Linked DNA regions of Homo sapiens: region 2 is linked to region 1. Evidence: fine-mapped QTL for protein levels in blood plasma. A gene starts in region 1. The other region holds a variant in brackets. All regions are shown on one strand. Distances are between the middles of the regions.

Region 1 (8,330 bases):
AAGCAGAGGTTGCAGTGAGCTGAGATCACGCCACTGCACTCCAAGACAGAGCAAGACTCTGTCTCAAAAAAAAAGAAAAGAAAAGAAAAAAGAAATAGTAGGGCTATTTATATTATACATTTCATAAAGCTCCCTTCCTTTCATACATTGTTGGCCCCCAAAACTGTGTTCCAAAGTCAAATGCGTGGAAGATGAATAGAGGGAGGGTCACGTGTGTGTATGTGTGCGTGTGTGTGTGTGTGTGTGTGTGTGTGTGGCAGGGGTGTTGAGTGTTGGTTGGGGGAGGGCATCCAGGGCGTTCCCAGGAGGCTGAAACCTCTCATGAGCCTCTGATGGTGTCGTTTCAGGATCCTACACATGTTCTCATTTTTGTTCCGCATCATGACTGAGATAATCGCACATTGTGACTGTATATTTATTTGTCTGTTTCTTGCTCTCCCTCCGTCTCTGTCTCCCCAGGACACTGTGAGCCCCAGGAGGGCAGGGGCTGATCTGTGGGCTCCCTGCTATATCCAAGGCACCCAGCTCTGTGTCCACACAGAGGGTGTGTAAGGTGCATTTGCTGACTGACTAACTGACCTGCTAGCCGACTGCATCTGTTTGTGCCACCAGTCTTGAATTACTAAAGAAAATTAGAGGGTTGGGAGAGAAATACTGGGGGACTGACCCCTAAAATCATACAAGCCCTGCAACATAGCAAAGTCTTAGGCTCTAGCCTGCTCCAGCCTCTCTGGCCCTGCCCTGGGCTGCTAGTGGAACCTCTCCCGCCCTCCTGACCTGGAGAGACTGGAGATGGGGTGGGGGTGGGGGCTGCCTCAAGAATCTATCTCCAAGGATGGCCATTTGAGGGCAGATGAGGTTAAACCTCCAAGCACCCCAAACTGAGGCTCCCAACTTGAGGGACTCAGCTGCCCCCAGGGGCCTGGTCCAGTGATTCCCCCATCTCCCAGGGACCTGCCCATTTCCCAAGCCCCCCACTCAATAGTCACACCGTTTTCAAGGACAGGTAGACACTGGTACGTGAGGGTTCTCACAACAGCTGAACTTTGTAAGTCACCCCTTCCTGTCTTCCTTTATCTAGTTACAGCTAGACAATATGATATGATATCAATCAGAGCAACTGCAATACCAGTCACAGAAATCCCAGTGTCAAGAGTTCCTTCTGGGGTTCCCCGCTTTGCTTTAAGTGAGCGTGCTGTGAGTATGTCCCAGCTCCTGTCCCCTGCAGCACCGCTATTGTGAAGTCAAAGTGAGTTAACACCATGCTCAGGGCAGGGCCTGGAAAGAGGACCTGCTCATCTGATTGGGTGGTTTCCATGTCAAGGCCAGGCACAGCACAGGCCGACAGCTGGGGCCCAGAGCCCCTTTTGCCAGGCACAGACTGCAGGCACAGAGAGGTGAGGACATTTGCCTGAGGCCACACAGTAGGGGCGGGTCACCGCGTAGTGTGTCCAGGTGCACTCTCCACAGGCCGCCCAGCTCCCTCCTGAGCTTCAGAAAGCACCCAAGAGATTGGCAGAGAGAGGAGAGAGACAGTGGGTAAGAGAGAGACAGGGCAGGGACAGCCTGAGGAGGAGGGAAGGAGAGACAGAAAGAGAAGGGGATGGCAAGAGCAAGACAGAGACCTCTGGGAAAGCCAGACAGTGAAGACAAGCAGGCTACCCGAGGCCTGGTTTTGAGGATCTGAGCACACTGTCCCCTGCCTTGGGGGAGGCTCCATACAGCCCACAGCGTTCTGGGAGGCACTGAGGGCCTCAGGACCCCAGCCCTGCTTGTGCTCCATTCCCATCCCCAATCCCATCTCACCTCCAGCCCCTGGTTCTGACTCCTCATGAGAACATCCCCAGCTCCCCTTCCCTGCCACCCGCCCCACTCCCTTCCCCTCCAGCCCACCTTCCCTGCCACCCGCCCCACTCCCTTCCCCTCCAGCCCACCTTCCCTGCCACCCGCCCCACTCCCTTCCCCTCCAGCCCACCTTCCCTGCCACCCGCCCCACTCCCTTCCCCTCCAGCTCCCCTTCCCTGCCACCCGCCCCACTCCCTTCCCCTCCAGCCCACCTTCCCTGCCACCCACCCCACTCCCTTCCCCTCCAGCCCACCTTCCCTGCCACCCGCCCCACTCCCTTCCCCTCCAGCCCACCTTCCCTGCCACCCGCCCCACTCCCTTCCCCTCCAGCCCACCTTCCCTGCCACCCGCCCCACTCCCTTCCCCTCCAGCCCACCTTCCCTGCCACCCGCCCCACTCCCTTCCCCTTCAAGCGACTCAGGCAAGCTCCCAGACACTCTTTCCAAAACCCACCCTCCTTCCTTTGCCCCTGAAAGGCTCCCACTCTGGAATGCCCTCCCCTCCTAACACATCCCTATCCCTTAAGCCCAGATCAAATGTCACCTCTTCCAGGAAGCCTTCTCTGAACTATTCCCCAGGGAAGCATTGTGATGCCATTGCTGATAGCAGCAACAAAAGCCCAGTCATGCCAGTTCCAGAATCACCAGGAAAGAAAGAAAGAAATCATTTTTCCCCTCCCTAATCAGGCAGGTTATCCCCTTCTGGGCCCCACTGAGCTGCCAGCGACTGTCACACACGAGGCAGGTGCCAGCCTCCCTCTCTCTCAGTGCTGACCATACCATCTGTGTGTTTGCCCCTGTTCTACTGTTTGACATACTTGACCTGTGCTGGCCTTATTAAGCCCATCCTGTCTGCACCCTGGCATTTGTATTGCTCGTCTGGCCCTAATAACAATCCCTGTGTCACCTCTATCCTGGTACTTTGCACACTTGGCCAAGGCTCACGGCAGTGAAAGCAACACATCACCCTGCCTGGGTTCCCATTCCTGGAGCTCTGAGCCTACGCACATGCTGCCCACGTGGATGAAAATCCCAGCACTCAGCCGGCTGCCTGCATCCACCTCTGTTGGGTCACCCAACACACCTTCATCAACTGGACTGTGGGCCCCACGAGGGCAGAGATCTGGTCTTTGTCTCCCCCCAAGAGCTAGGACAGCTTCCAACTTAGCCAGGGTTCATTTGCACTGAATTTAATCTATTTCTGTCCCACAAAAGAGGGATTATGTTGTAAGTTCCAGTAATGATTTCTTTATTTCTTTCCTGGTGGTTCCGGGACCGGCATGACTGGGCGTTTGTTGCTGCTATCAGCAATGGCATCACAATAATTCCTCAGAGTCCCAGGTTGGTGGGGGCTGTGGGTCGGGCATTGGGAAAGGAATGAGGTTTCCTCCACTCCCTTGTCCTGCGCCCAACCTTTATTGACTCATTTGCAGGCCATTTAGTGGGGTTGTTTACATATCCAATACATATATTTAGTGTAAACATTTTTTTAATTCTGAAAAATACCAAGAAGATGGTGAAAGTGACCTGTGATCACACCACCAAGAAACGTGTACTGTTGATGCATTTCCTTCCAGTATTTTTTTCTAGATTAAAAAAAATTTTTTTTTGTTAAAAAATAGAAGAAACAGTTTCCCTTTTCACTTACTTCTGTTGGTTGGTCTACATTGTTTTGTGATGGCTGCCTGGTGGCCCACGGTTTATTTAATAAATCCCATTGCTGGATGTTAAGGCGGGTCCCACTTTAGGGCTATTCCAGGTAAGGCTGCAGTGAGCATCCTCACAGTTCTCTATGCTCAAATCACTGGCCAGTTCCCTTGGCAGAACCTCCACTGACCCTGGGTCAATGGGTTTGATCTTCCTAACAACATACTTGACCTCAGAAACAGCCCAGTCCTCATTGCATAAGAACTGAGCCCCCTCCACTATAAGCAAAGGTCATCACAGCCAGCCTGGCCACTGCATCGTGGAGCCCAACATCTTTATTCTATAGCTGGGGAGACTGAGGCTCAGAGAGAACTGACTTATCCAAAACCAGCCCAAAGGTAGTGGCAAACTCCATGTCATCTAGGGATTTTCTCCCCACTCCATTATCTTTAATATTTTGCAAGAAAATCCATAATCCTTAACAAGGATGCTGGTGGGATGTAGCAAGGATGAAGCATCTGTGTCTGCTCATGACCGACATTGTTAATCAATCACCACATTCTCTCCTGCTGAGCCCAGACCCTTGAAAGCTTCAAGAGCCATCACCAGGCAGCTGAAATTGGTACAAGAGCAAAATGCTTCTACCATGCTGGTGGAGCATCTTTGGTGGCAACAATGGAGGACCTGAGCTTCTTTAGGAGTGGCTTGAATTCTTGCTTTCCTTCTTTCTTTCGAGCCAGTGACAGTTGGCAAGGCCTCTGATTTCCATCTGTCCACGTCATCAGAAACCCTCTCTGGTTTTCCGCATGACTGCAGTCTTCCCAGGAGAGCTTGGCCCTCGTTCTGGCTGGAGATGGTAGGGCAGGCTGGGTCAGTGCGTGGAGCATGGGCTCTCAATTCAGACAGAAATGGGTCCCAATCCTGGCCCTCTGCTTTATGGTTGTGGGACCTTAGGCAAGTCAATTCCCTTCTCCAAGGTCCTACTTCATCTGGAAAATGGGAGGATAAAAACCCCTATTTTCTCCTCTCTTGGCCTCAGTTTGGTGATCTGTAGAATGGAGATGATCTTTTCCACTCTGCCATCTTGCTGTGTCTGAGCATCCAGCTTTGATTTAACATCAGATTATCTCCCCACCCCTAACCGAGGCTTCTGTGGATCAGCTTGGTGGGAAAGGGGAGAAGAGGTGTGTGTTCTCTCCCTGCACTTCCCTCTCCTTCTCTTTCTCTCTCTCTCTCTCTCTCTCTCTCTCTCCATCCAGAAGGAAGAAAAGGGGCAGGAGAATTTTCCTTTGACTGATATTGTTGCCAGGTAGTTCCCAACTCTCTGGGGAGCCCAAAAAATGTTGAGAGCCAAGTCTTGTCGGCACCTTCAAAGAGGTAGTCTTACCTCCCTGTGGGGCTTCTTGACCTGCACCCCCCACACCAGGGCAGAGCCTCTTTGATGGCTAACTGTCCCGCAGGCCACCCCAGCCACTCCCAGCCCCTGGTTCTCTAGCGTCCTCTCCAGGTGGTGATACTAGGAAGGACTTCAAGCAGCCCTAGACCGATCTTCGTCTTGCAGGGTCCACACCCGGCCCTGGGAAAACACACACACACATGCGCTTTGACCCTGCCCAGAGGGAACAGAGAGCAGTAATTTTCCACTTACGGAAGTCACTTTGCCCAACATGACTTCAACTCATCAGGAGACACAACCCAGTCTACTGCAAGCCCCAACTCCAGGGGAGACAAACCTCAAGCCCCTAAGTGGTCCCTGAAAAGGTCCCTCCTGCTAGGCCTGCATTGAGGCCCAAACACCTCCTGCCCTCCTCCCTGGGAGAGGAGGAGGGACCACAGCTGTCTCCCAAGAAATACCTCTGCCATCTTCTTCCTGTCCCTTCTTGGCCCTTTCGTTGCCTTAATCTGGGTCAGGGCCCCCTGCATGAGAGATGCAGGAGCTGTGCAACTGGTTTTTAGCCACTGCTTGGTCTGTGGCCCAGGACCTCTCCTTGGTATACAGCATCTGGGAAATCATGGTGCCTAAAACAACACTCAAGTTTTCAGACCCAGTTCCAGTAAATGCTAGTAAGGACACCCTCAGTGTGCAGCAAAAAGAGCCCTACCTTAGAGAGGGTGGTCCCCTTGTCCCCTGCTCCCCCACCCCACCCCAGGAGGCAACACTGTAGCTGAGACTTGGTGAATTAGAAGAAGCCAGAATGAGAGCTGGAAGGAGAGCGCTCCTGGGATAAGGCCAGCATGTGCGCAGGCCCTGGGGTGGGAGTGAGAGGAGCGAGGGATGAAGTAGAGAGAGGTGAGGGCTGAAAGGTGGCCAGCAGCCAAACATGCTGGGAAGAGGACATCCAGGCCAGGTGGAGCAGCAGTCAGGCAGCTTTATGCAGATGTTGCGTTCTTTTTTGTGTGTGTGAGACAGAGTCTTGCTCTGTAGCCCGGGCGGGAGTGCAGTGGTGCGATCTTGGCTCACTGCAACCTCTGCCTCCTGGGTTCAAGTGGTTCCCCTGCCTCAGCCTTCTGAGTAACTGGGTCTACAGGCACGTGCCACCTAAAAACCATGCCCGTCTAATTTTTTTTTTTTTTTTTTTTTAGAGACAGGGTTTCACCATGTTGACCAGGCTGATCTCAAACTCCTGACCTCAGGTAATCCACCAGTATTTGCCTCCCAAAATGCTGGTATTACAGGTGTGAATTTACCACTTGCTGAATTCTCTGATGTTTCAAGCATTTCTCATGACCTTACGAGACCCTCAAAATAGTCCCATTTCACAATGGAGGAAACAGTCTCATAGAGAAGAAGCAATTTTCCCAAGGCTGACAGCTGTCAGTATAGGAGCAGGAATCTGAGCCGTGTCTGTCGGCCTCCACAGGCTTCCTCCTGCACTCCTGCGCTTCTTCCCAGACAGGGCACAATTAGGTTTTCAGGAGGGTGAAGGAGGTACTCCAGAAAGAGGACACGGCACAAAAAGGCCTGGGAGCTGAAGAGAGGTGGAGCCAAGGCCAAGAGACGCCAGCAACCTGAGGAGGGGCCACGCGGTACTGAGGGCAGGTGTGGAGTCTGGGGACCATGGGCCTGCAGAGATGCAGCCAGCTTTGCTGTCCCAGCACGTGGCAGGAAGCAGGAGCTGATGCGGCCCCAGGTCTTGGCATTGGGCCCGAGCACCGCACAGAGGGTCATTGTCCATGGGCAGTGGGCATGGCCAGCTGGGAAGCCAAGCAGGGGCATTTGCCTCTCTGGAGATGTGCCCAAGGGATCGGCAGGGTCCTCCCAAGAGCTCTCTCAAAACACCTCACCTTTAGGTATTCAGGGCTTTTGGTGTGTTTGCAAACATGGCAGGACAGCAAACGCTCTTCACCTTGTTCTTCTTGTCAAAAAGCAGGAGGAAGAGACCAGCCAGGGCCTGGCCACGTACTTTGTGACCTCAGAACACTTACTGCCCCTGACTTGTCTGCTGCAGATGGAGACAGGATTCAACAATGGCCATCCCAGCTCTAAACCACAATTCCATTCTTCTAGACAAAAACTGGGTAGCAAGGATAATTCCCCAGATGACATCAAAAGGCCATGTTGGTGTCACCACCACCTCCAGTGCTAAATTGAAGTCTCAGGGGAAGGACAGTGTGGCGGTTAAGAGGGTCCGGTCTGGACTGATGATCGGGTTCAGGTCCCAAAGCTGGAATCCCTGGTCATGTGACCTTGAGCAAGTCACTCGCCTCTCTGAGCCTCAGGTGCCCTCTGTAACATTAACGCTGCTGATGCCCACCTCTGGGTGACTGTGCAGGCTGCGTGAGCCAAGACCTGGGCCCAGGTGGTGGATGACAGCGTCCTGCTGGGCTCTGACATTTGTCCTTTAGGTTCATGGTCATCCCTCCTTATTCTTTTGGTCCACAAGTGCTCATGGAGATTCCTAAAGATGCAGACAAGGTAGAGCAGATTTTAATTGCTGCGGAATGAATGAATGAATGAAATGAAAGCCCATGCTAAGCACTGTGTAGGCATGCACTTCAACTCATGCTCTTAACAACCTATGAGGAGGAGCTACTATTATCCCCATGCTATAGATGAGGTCATTGGGGCCCAGAGAGGTGAAGTACCTTGCCCAAGGGCACACAGCAAAGCAGTGGCAAAAATAGGATTCAAATCTATTCTCCTGGGTGAATTAATTGATGGAGATGTGTATCTTTGATGTATTTAGGAATAAGGGGTGGGTAAGGCTACTCCTTCCTTTTCCCAAATTGATTATCTGGATTAAACAATTGTTGTAATCCCTCTACAAAGGCTCATCCTATTATAAGCAATAATAATATTAATGGCAACGGCCACTCACATTTATGGAGTGCTTATTCTGCTATATGCACTGTGCTTCTCTCAGCCTGGACCTTCCTTTCTCCAAACCTCAGGAAGCTGGAGTCCCAAGGCTGCCTCCGGGCGGGGCTGTGGTTCAGCAGAAGCCACAAATATTTACCTTGGAGACCTCGGCCTGGTCTGAGGCCTCTGCCTAAAGACAAAGCCTGTGCTGGGGTGTGCAGGATATAAGGTTGGACTTCCAGACCCACTGCCCGGGAGAGGAGAGGAGCGGGCCGAGGACTCCAGCGTGCCCAGGTAAAAGTAGGGAAGGGGCTGAAAGCCAAGGTTGCCAGGAAGGTTCTGAGCTAGAGATACCTGTTGGGGTCAGGTCAGGAGCACAGGGGAGGCTCGCCCTCAGGGAAGGGCCCTCGGTGAGTCAGGATCCGCTGAGGGTCAGGGCCAGGTGTAGAGAGATGCCCAGCTCCCTCGCCCAGAGGACCAAAGGGCAGTGACGAAGGGATGGGGCTGGCTGAGTGTTTTCCTGACCTCTTCCTAGTGAC
Region 2 (8,330 bases), 150 kb before region 1:
GAGAAAGGCTGGAGTCAGGGCCTTGGAGGAAGACAGGAGACCCCTGGGGGCAGGGGAGGGGATCTGATCAAGTGGACATTGGCATTTCATTTCATGAGACCTCCTTGAGTGAAGTGAGTGCTACCGCCTGGATCCCTGAGGTGTCCCCACTTCCAAGCCCCAAGGTCTGAGCTCAGGCATGAAGCCCCATCCCATGCCCCAGCTACCACCTTCTTTCTGCCATGCCTGAGGTTCTCCAACTGGATGCAGGCACCCTGCCAATGTCACCAATGCTTGCTCTCAAATGATTAAACTTTCTGTTTTGCACATGATTCTGGAGCAGAGTGAGTGTCTGTGGTTCACTGACACCATCAGCCTAAAAGTCCCCAGCATGGAGCTCAAGAAATGCAAGTCCTCTCCTGCTTCCCCCCATAAGACCTTTAATTTTTCGTGGAAACTGAGGCCCAGGACATCAAAGGGCCACTTACCAGGAGTAGTACGGCAGGGTCAGGACCCAGCCTCTGAGCCCTCATCAAAGTTTCTCTCACTTCATCATAGAAGCCCCAGGGCAGCAGGTAAAAAAATTGCAGATCCCCAGGCCCACACTCCCCAGAGCTTCTGTCTCAGTAGTTCCAGGATGGAGAACTGGAATCCAAATTTAATAAGCTGCATGGGTGGGTCTGATGCAGCTGGATTGGGGGACACTTGGAGAAACATTGCTTTAGTCGACTCTTGCCTTTAGGCAGTCAGGGAAACTAAGGCTTGGAGAGGGCAAGGGGCACACAGCAAGCAGGTGATGGAGTTGATTGTAGAACCAGGTATTTGATGCCCACCTCTAAGTCCAGGTGACCGTGACTTACATGTGATGGTGTTCCACGGGATCCCTCAAGCCCCAAGAGTGTCTCCCTCCCCTGCTCAAGGTATGAGCCAAGTGTGACAGCTCAGCTGTCAACTCCCAGCCCAGCCACTTTCCAGGCAAAAGGTGACTCGGAAAAGGACGAATACAGAAGCTGGCATGGCCCAGGTTTGATAAAAACAAGCCGGGCATTTGCCCAAAGGGAGCCACAGGGGCTCAGCTCTAAGGAACACTTGTTCTGAGCCCTGAGCTGACTCCAGACCTGCCTCCCTCCCCGCCCCACCTGAATGCTGACATCTCACCTGTTGGCCTCACCAGATGCCATATATCTGCCCCCTGGGGGATTCCACACCTCCCTCCCAGTCTCTCAGGCCACACTGCCATGGCCCTATCAGTCCTCCTCCACCTGCTCTTGTCCTCACCCAGTCTTGCCACAGCCCTCTCCACTTCAAGTTGCTGGGACCCTTTTGTCGTCACTGTTCTGGTTCTGGACCTTCTTTCCTAGTTTCTGGACCCGAAAAGACTCCCAGGTCCTGTCTTTGCCCAGATCTGCCCTGTCATGAGTCACAGATCTGAGCATCTGATCCTTCATCCAGTGAGCATTAATTGAGCAACTACTATATGCCAGGTTATGTGGTTATGTGGACAGCCTCCCTTCCCTATTGTCATCCAAATTTAGGCAGCTCTACTATTTTGTGGGCCAAGTGTGGACCTGGAAATCTTTGCCAAGTCTGTGATTCCCCCGCCAACCTCCATCCACTAACCCCTGGGGGTCTATTATTTCTCCAGTGTACTGCCAGGGGTCCAGGAGCAGGTTCCCATGCTCCTCCGCACACTTGGGCAGTGCCCTACCCCACAGGAGGGTTATAAAGCATGTTGTGGTTGCAATCTCACTTGACCCTCATCTGGGAACTGAGAGAGAAAGCAGAGATTCGAATTCCCATTTCACAAGTGGGGGAACTGAAGCATGGGAAGGTGATCTGGTGAGGAAAGGCAGTGTTGGGATGGTGATTCAGGCCTCCTGATCTCGCCTGCAGGGCTCTTTCCTCTGATCATTACAGCAACAATGGATCGAGTCTACTCGGTGCCCAGCTTAGTGATAAGCTCCTGGCATGCACTCATTCAGCCATCACAACGGCTCCTCAAAGCAGGAACAACCATTATCTCTACTTTACATGTGAGGGAATTGAGGCCCAGAGAGGGGAATTGAGGCCAGAGAGGGCACTTGAGGTCACCTGGTGCATGATGAGCAAAGTTCGGTTTCAAATGCAGGTTGTCCTGACATCAGAGCGCCAGATCCTAACCTAAGCCACAGAGATTATGGGGGGAAATTTAAATCCAGCCATAGGTGTGGTCCTGGAAAGTGGCCAGAGGAGGTGGGGGTGAGGTTAGGAGTCAGTCCACATTGCACTATCAGCATTGAAACTGACACTTGAATAATCCTATACTCAAACCTATGGAGAGTTTTCTTGTATCCCTGCTGCAATTTACCTGATATAAGACACAGCATGGCCGTGGCTTCAGATGGGGGTTTCTGGGCTCCCTGATAGAAAAACAGGTGGAGCTGCTGTGGGGCTTGGAAGCCCTGCCCTGCAGACCCTTTCACCTCCAAGACTGCCCCTACTTAATGAGGATAACACGGCAACCATGGTGATAGCTCTCTACTAAAGGAAGATGGACAGGATGGTCACAGTCACAGCTCGGATGGTCACAGTCGCAGCTCAGATGTTCCGAGCACTTGCCATGTGCCAGGTGCCACGTGGCCAAGCCCTATATTTCCCTATTTCTTTACTTTTTCTTGTCCTCATTTTACAGATGAGAAATTGAGGTTTAGTCAAGTTAGCTGACCACTTCAAGAGCATACTGCTCATAAATGGAAGACTCAGGATTTAAACCCAGTGCCCACAGATGCCTCGACCATCTTTAATCCAGTGGATTGGAGCAGGGATACAAGAAAACTGTCCACAGATTTGAATGTAGGATTATTTAAATGAATCCATTTCTGCAGTGTCATCATTCCTGTGTTCTCTTTTCCAAGAATCTTCCTTTTAAGGGTGGCTTCTCCTTTCCCATCTTTTTTTCCACATTCTTTCTCCTGTTTTTTTCTTTTAAGTACAGGGATAATCGAACATTTTGGGAGGCCAAGGTGGGCAGATCACTTGAGCTCAGGAGTTCGAGACCAGCCTGGGCAACATGGCGAAACCCCATCTCTACCAAAAATACAAAAATTAGCTGGGCATTGGTGGTGCGCACCTGTGGTACCAGCTACTCAAGAGGCTGAGGTGGGAGGATCGCTGGAGACCGGGAAGTCAAGGCCACAGTGAGCTGAGATCACGCCACTGGACACCAGCCTGGGTGACAGAGTGAGACCTTGTCTCAAAAATAAATAAATAAATTAATTAATTTAAATACAGGAACTCGCTCTGACACTTGGGCTGGAGTGCAGTGGTGTGATCATAATTCACTGCAGACTTGAACTCCTGGGCTCCAGCAATCCTCCCACCTCAGCCTCCTGAATAGCTGTGATTACAGGCATGAGCCACTACATCCAGCTAACATATTTTTTGTAGAGATGGGGTCTCACTGTGTTGTCCAGGCAGCCTGCCCACCCCTGGCCTTAAGCGATCCTCCCACCTAGTGCTGGGATTACAGATAGGAGCTGCCACTGAATCTTTCTGCTTCTTAGCATTTCTCTCTTTGTCCCCAACCCCTACTCAAGTGCATTGCCTGGGGGGCTCAACCTCCAGGGCTCTGAACAAAGGGACAGAGTGATGCTCCAGTGGCCAGGAAGCAAGCCAGGTGGTTTTCAATTAGCTTTCAACAAAAGAGGAGTGTTGCTGCTGGTGGTGGTATTAATCTGCTGGAATTGTTGCAAAACCATTT[T/C]TGATAAAACATCATCACATGATTTTTGGCATTTACATTGAAAGCAGTTCAAAGAATTGAGCAACACTGTTTTACCAAAACTCTGTTCATTCTTATCTGCTGACCTGTATTTGCTAAACAAATAAGCGGATGTTTTTTAAGAGCGCTTAGGTCTCTAAAAATGAAAATTAGGTCTCTGATGAGTGCTAAACACTGCCTCCTTCTAGCAATAAGCAAATTATAAATCTGTTAAAAGAACTAATTGGAAAAAAGCCCAATCCATGTCATTAACACATCCATTTCCAAATCAATATTACTTTGTGTTTAATTATTATCAAAATTTGTTTTGATAAATTGTATATCACTATTAATAGTAACAATCTAAAAGATTATTTTAAATACATAGTGTCCACTGGTCAAAGGAGATTTGAAAAAAATTTAATCAAGATACATATTTTTTTAATGTTTACTTTTTAACAAATTTTTATATTTCCATAGGTTTTGGGGGAATGGTATTTAGTTACAAGAGTAAGTTCTTTAGTGGTGATTTGTGAGATTTTGGTGCACCCATCACCCAAGCAGTATACATTGGATCCGATTTGTAGTCTTTTATCCCTCACCCCCTTCCCACCCTTTCCCCCTGAATTGCCAAAGTCATTCTTTTTTTTTTGCTCTGTTGCCCAGGGTGGAGTGCAGTGGCACAATCTTGGCTCACTGCAGCCTCCGCCTCCCAGGTTCAAGCAATTCTCCTGCTACAGCCTCCCGAGTAGCTGGGACTACAGGCAAGCGCCTCTAACACCTGGCTAATTTTTGTATTTTTAGTAGAGATGGGGTTTCACGATGTTGGCCAGGATGGTCTCGATCTCCTGACCTCATGATCCACCCGCCTCGGCCTCCCAAAGTGCTGGGATTACAGGCATGAGCCACTGCACCTGGCCGCCAAAGTCATTCTTATGCCTTTGCATCCTCATAGTTTAGCTCCCACTTATAAGTGAGAACATACAATGTTTGGTTTTTCCATTCCTGAGTAACTTTACTTAGAATAATAATCTCCAATCCCATCTAGGTTGCTTCGAATGCTATTAATTCATTCCTTTCTGAAGGAATGAATATGCCCGGCCAGTTCACATGTTTTTAAATGGATGAAGGTGCTGAGTAGTATTCCATCGTATATATATACACACCACAGTTTCTTTATTCACTCATTGATTGATGGGCATTTGGGTTGGTTCCACATTTTTTGCAATTGTGAATTGTGCTGCTATAAACGTGCATGTGCAAGTATCTTTACACATAATGACTTCTCTTCCTCTGGGTAGAAACCCAGTAGTGGGATTGCTGGATCAAATGGTAGTTCAACTGTTAGTTCTTTAAGGAATCTCTATGCTGTTTTCCATAGTGGTTGTACTAGTTTACATTCCCACCAGCAGTGTAGAAGTGTTTCCTGTTCACCGCATCCACACCAACAAAGATAGATATTTCTGATGCAGAAGAGTCTACCTCTCTCCTTCCCTGTCCAACTTCATTCTCTGTTTTTTCCATTTGCGAGCTTCACACCAGCTTTGCTGGCCTCCTAACTATTCCTGTAATGCACCAGCACCTTCCCCACCCCAGGGCCTCTGCATGTACTGTCCCTCTGCCTGGACTGGTCAACCTTCAATAGTATTATGGCTGCCTCTCTCACCCTCTGCAGTCTTCACTCTAAGTCACCTTCTCAGGGAAGGTTTCTCTGACCTCTGTATCTAAAATTTCTCCTCCTTCCCCTCAACTCTTTTCTCCTTCTGCCCTGCCTGCCTCCCCCTCACTCCACCAATCACTGTTATACTTATTTGCTTTGTTTATATATCAACTAAAATGTCAGTTATATGAGAACAGGAGCTTTTGTCTGTTTTGCTCACCTGGTGACCCCAGTACAGAGCCTGGCTTGTAGCAGACGTTCAATACACTGTATTTAGATGAATGGAGGAATGAGCAAATGAAGGAATGGATGAATGAGTTTAATCAACATCGGACTTTCAAGCATAAATATCTATTACATTAGACTAAAACTCTGTGGGGACAGTGCTTTTTGTGCAATGCAAATACAAATTCAAGGAGAAAAAAGAATGCCACAAAATTTCTGACTGTTAAAGAATTTGTTCACGTTTTTGTTGTTGTTTTTTCTTTTTTGTGGTTTTTTTCTTTTTTGAGATGGAGTCTCAATCTGTCACCCAGACTGGAGTGCAGTGGCATGATCTTGGCTCACTGCAACCTCTGCCTCCCAGGTTCAAGTGATTCTGCTGCCTCAGCCTCACAAGTAGCTGGGACTACAGGCATGCACCACCACACCCGGCTAATTTTTTTGTATTTTTAGTAGAGATGGGGTTTCACCATGTTGGCCAGGCTGGTCTAGAACTCCTGACCTTGGGTGATCTGCCCACCTCAGCCTCCCAAAGTGCTGGGATTACAGGCATGAGCTGCCGCGCCCGGCCAGTTCACATGTTTGTAAATGGACGAAGGTGGAAATCAAACCACTGTGGAATTTGTAGTCCATTGGATACATGTATAAATGCACATAAAGAAATATAAATGTATTCCTTTTAAATGTCAGTATTTGCAATCCCCTGAAAATAAAATTGACAACTACTTCAACTCATGCTGAAAATTTGAGACGTCAACTTGCAAACGGGTGAGGGTCATGTGATACCACCAGAATGGCTAAAGTGTAAAATGGGAAATGCCAAGTGCTGGCGATCAGAACTTGCCTTCATTGCTGGTGAGAGTATCAGATGGTGTATGTGGAAATCTGCTTGGCAGTGTCTACTGGAACTGAATACTCACAAACCGCAGGATCCAGCCATTCCACTCCTGGGTACACACCCAACAGCAATAAGCACACATGTTCACCAAAAGGCACCAGAAGCTTTGCAGCAGCATTGTACGTAAGCCCCAAACTGGAAACTGCCCAAACACCCATCAACAGTAGACGGAAAAACGACATTGCGGTAACTTACACAATGGAGCACACTCAGGCATTTAAAATGAACAAACAAGGCCTGCACACAACCACATGGATTAATCACACAACTGTGATGTTGAGTGAAAGAACCAGGCACAAAAAGGCACGTTCTGCACGATTCCATTTACGTAACATTCAAAACCCAGCCAAATGAATCTGCAGTGTGAGACATGAGAATGGTACTGGAGTTCCCTTTGGGGGCAAGTTAGAGACTGGGAGGGGCCTAAGTGGGGCTCTGGGGATGTGGACGATGCCATATGTTTTGCTTGGATGCTGGTTGGGTGGCATGTTAGCCTGCTCAGGCTGCGATAACAAAGTACCCCAGACTGGGTGGCTTAAACAACAGGTGTTTATTTTTCTCATCGTCTGGAAGGCTCAAAATCCAGGCTCAAGGTATTGGCAGGGTCCGTTTCATTCCAAGGCCTCTCTCACTGGCTTGCAGATGGCCGTCTCCTTGCTCCATCTTCCCATGGCCTTGCCTCTGTGTGTGTCTGTGTCCTCATCTCTTCTTATAAAGACACCAGTCATACTGGACTAGGCCCCACCTCATGAGCTCATTTTAAATGGATTAATTACCTCGTTAAAGACACTATCTCTGAATACAGTCACATTCTGAGATACGGGGGGTTAGGACTTCAACATATAAATTTGGGGTGCTGGTTGGGGACACAGATTAGTCCCTAACCCCTGGGAAGTTTCACTTTGTACAAATCCCTACAGCCCTCTGCCTATGGTATGGGCCCTTTATGTATGTCTGTCCTGCTTCAATAAAGATGGTGTGAGGGGCACATGGTTTTAAGGAATTCTGAACAAAACATAGAGGTTGCTCTGACCATCAAGTATGGTGTTTCCTCCAAAGGCTGTAGAAATATGCCTGGCATAAATCACAGAAGGCTATGAACAGCCAGAGAAATGGAGCATCCACCAGGACTCTGCATCAAACTCCAGGGAAGAGCTCCCTGGAGGTGGAGGCGCTGGCCAGGCTGGTCTGCCCCATCCCCAGCAGACCACCCTCTGGCCAGGCCTCCCACAGGGAGCTCTCCAGCCCCCAGATGCCTGCTTTTCTGATGGTGCAAACCAAGCTTCAAGCATGGGAGGCCCTGGCTCCTTGGCCGTGAGCACTCTCTCCCCGACTCAGCCTGGCCCTGCTGTCCTGTCCCTCAAGCCTGCCATCACCCCACCCTGGTGGGGCCGTTTTTCTTTCTCCTGCTGAGTAAAGTGTGAAACAGGTGAAAAGGCTGCAGACAGACAGGAGGCCAGCCAGCCAGCCCCAGGCAGTGCCCCAGCCACCTTGTGGCTGACTCCCATTCCCATACCAGTGACACTCAGAGGGCACTGGGTAGAGCCAGGGTACCTGAGAGGGATGGCAGGAGGGATCAGGAGAGGCCCACTGGGGTCAGTGCTGTGTGACATGGCTCGGCCTCTCTGGGCTGCAGCCTCCTCCTGCTCTGACGTTCCTCAAACCCCCAAGAGGGTTTCAGGAAGAGTCACACTGAGGTTGTGAATGGTGACAGAAAGACCAACAGCCCCTTCAATGGGTACCACCCTTCACAGGTTGCAAGTTGCTCTCCTTGTCCCTCAGGGAGCAGGTGCTAAGGCCAGCACCAAGGGGGAACCTGAGACAGAGAAGAGTCA

Direction of the effects. Positions count from the first base shown, and alleles are read on the strand shown. Strength reflects both the effect of a copy and how common the allele is.
For the plasma level of the protein whose gene starts at base 8,045 in region 1, allele C in region 2 goes with a higher level than allele T (moderate association).

What was found. PIP is the chance, under the fine-mapping model, that this variant and not a neighbour inherited with it causes the effect. Protein levels are from antibody-based Olink assays in UK Biobank. Linkage for the fine-mapping came from a reference panel and not from the study's own genotypes, which makes the PIPs less certain.
Region 2: its variant is fine-mapped to the plasma level of the BPIFB1 protein (UK Biobank, PIP above 0.99).

Annotation. Positions count from the first base shown.
Region 1 is chr20:33,275,170-33,283,499 of GRCh38, forward strand. It overlaps BPIFB1 (BPI fold containing family B member 1), which reads left to right and starts at 8,045. Exons shown (of 16, transcript NM_033197.3): 1 at 8,045-8,085. RefSeq lists enhancers at 6,117-6,617, 6,618-7,118.
Region 2 is chr20:33,124,184-33,132,513 of GRCh38, forward strand. No RefSeq gene overlaps it. Among named protein-coding and RNA genes, the nearest start is that of BPIFA2, 40 kb to the right of the region's middle. The variant T/C (reference allele first, on the strand shown) is at 3,719.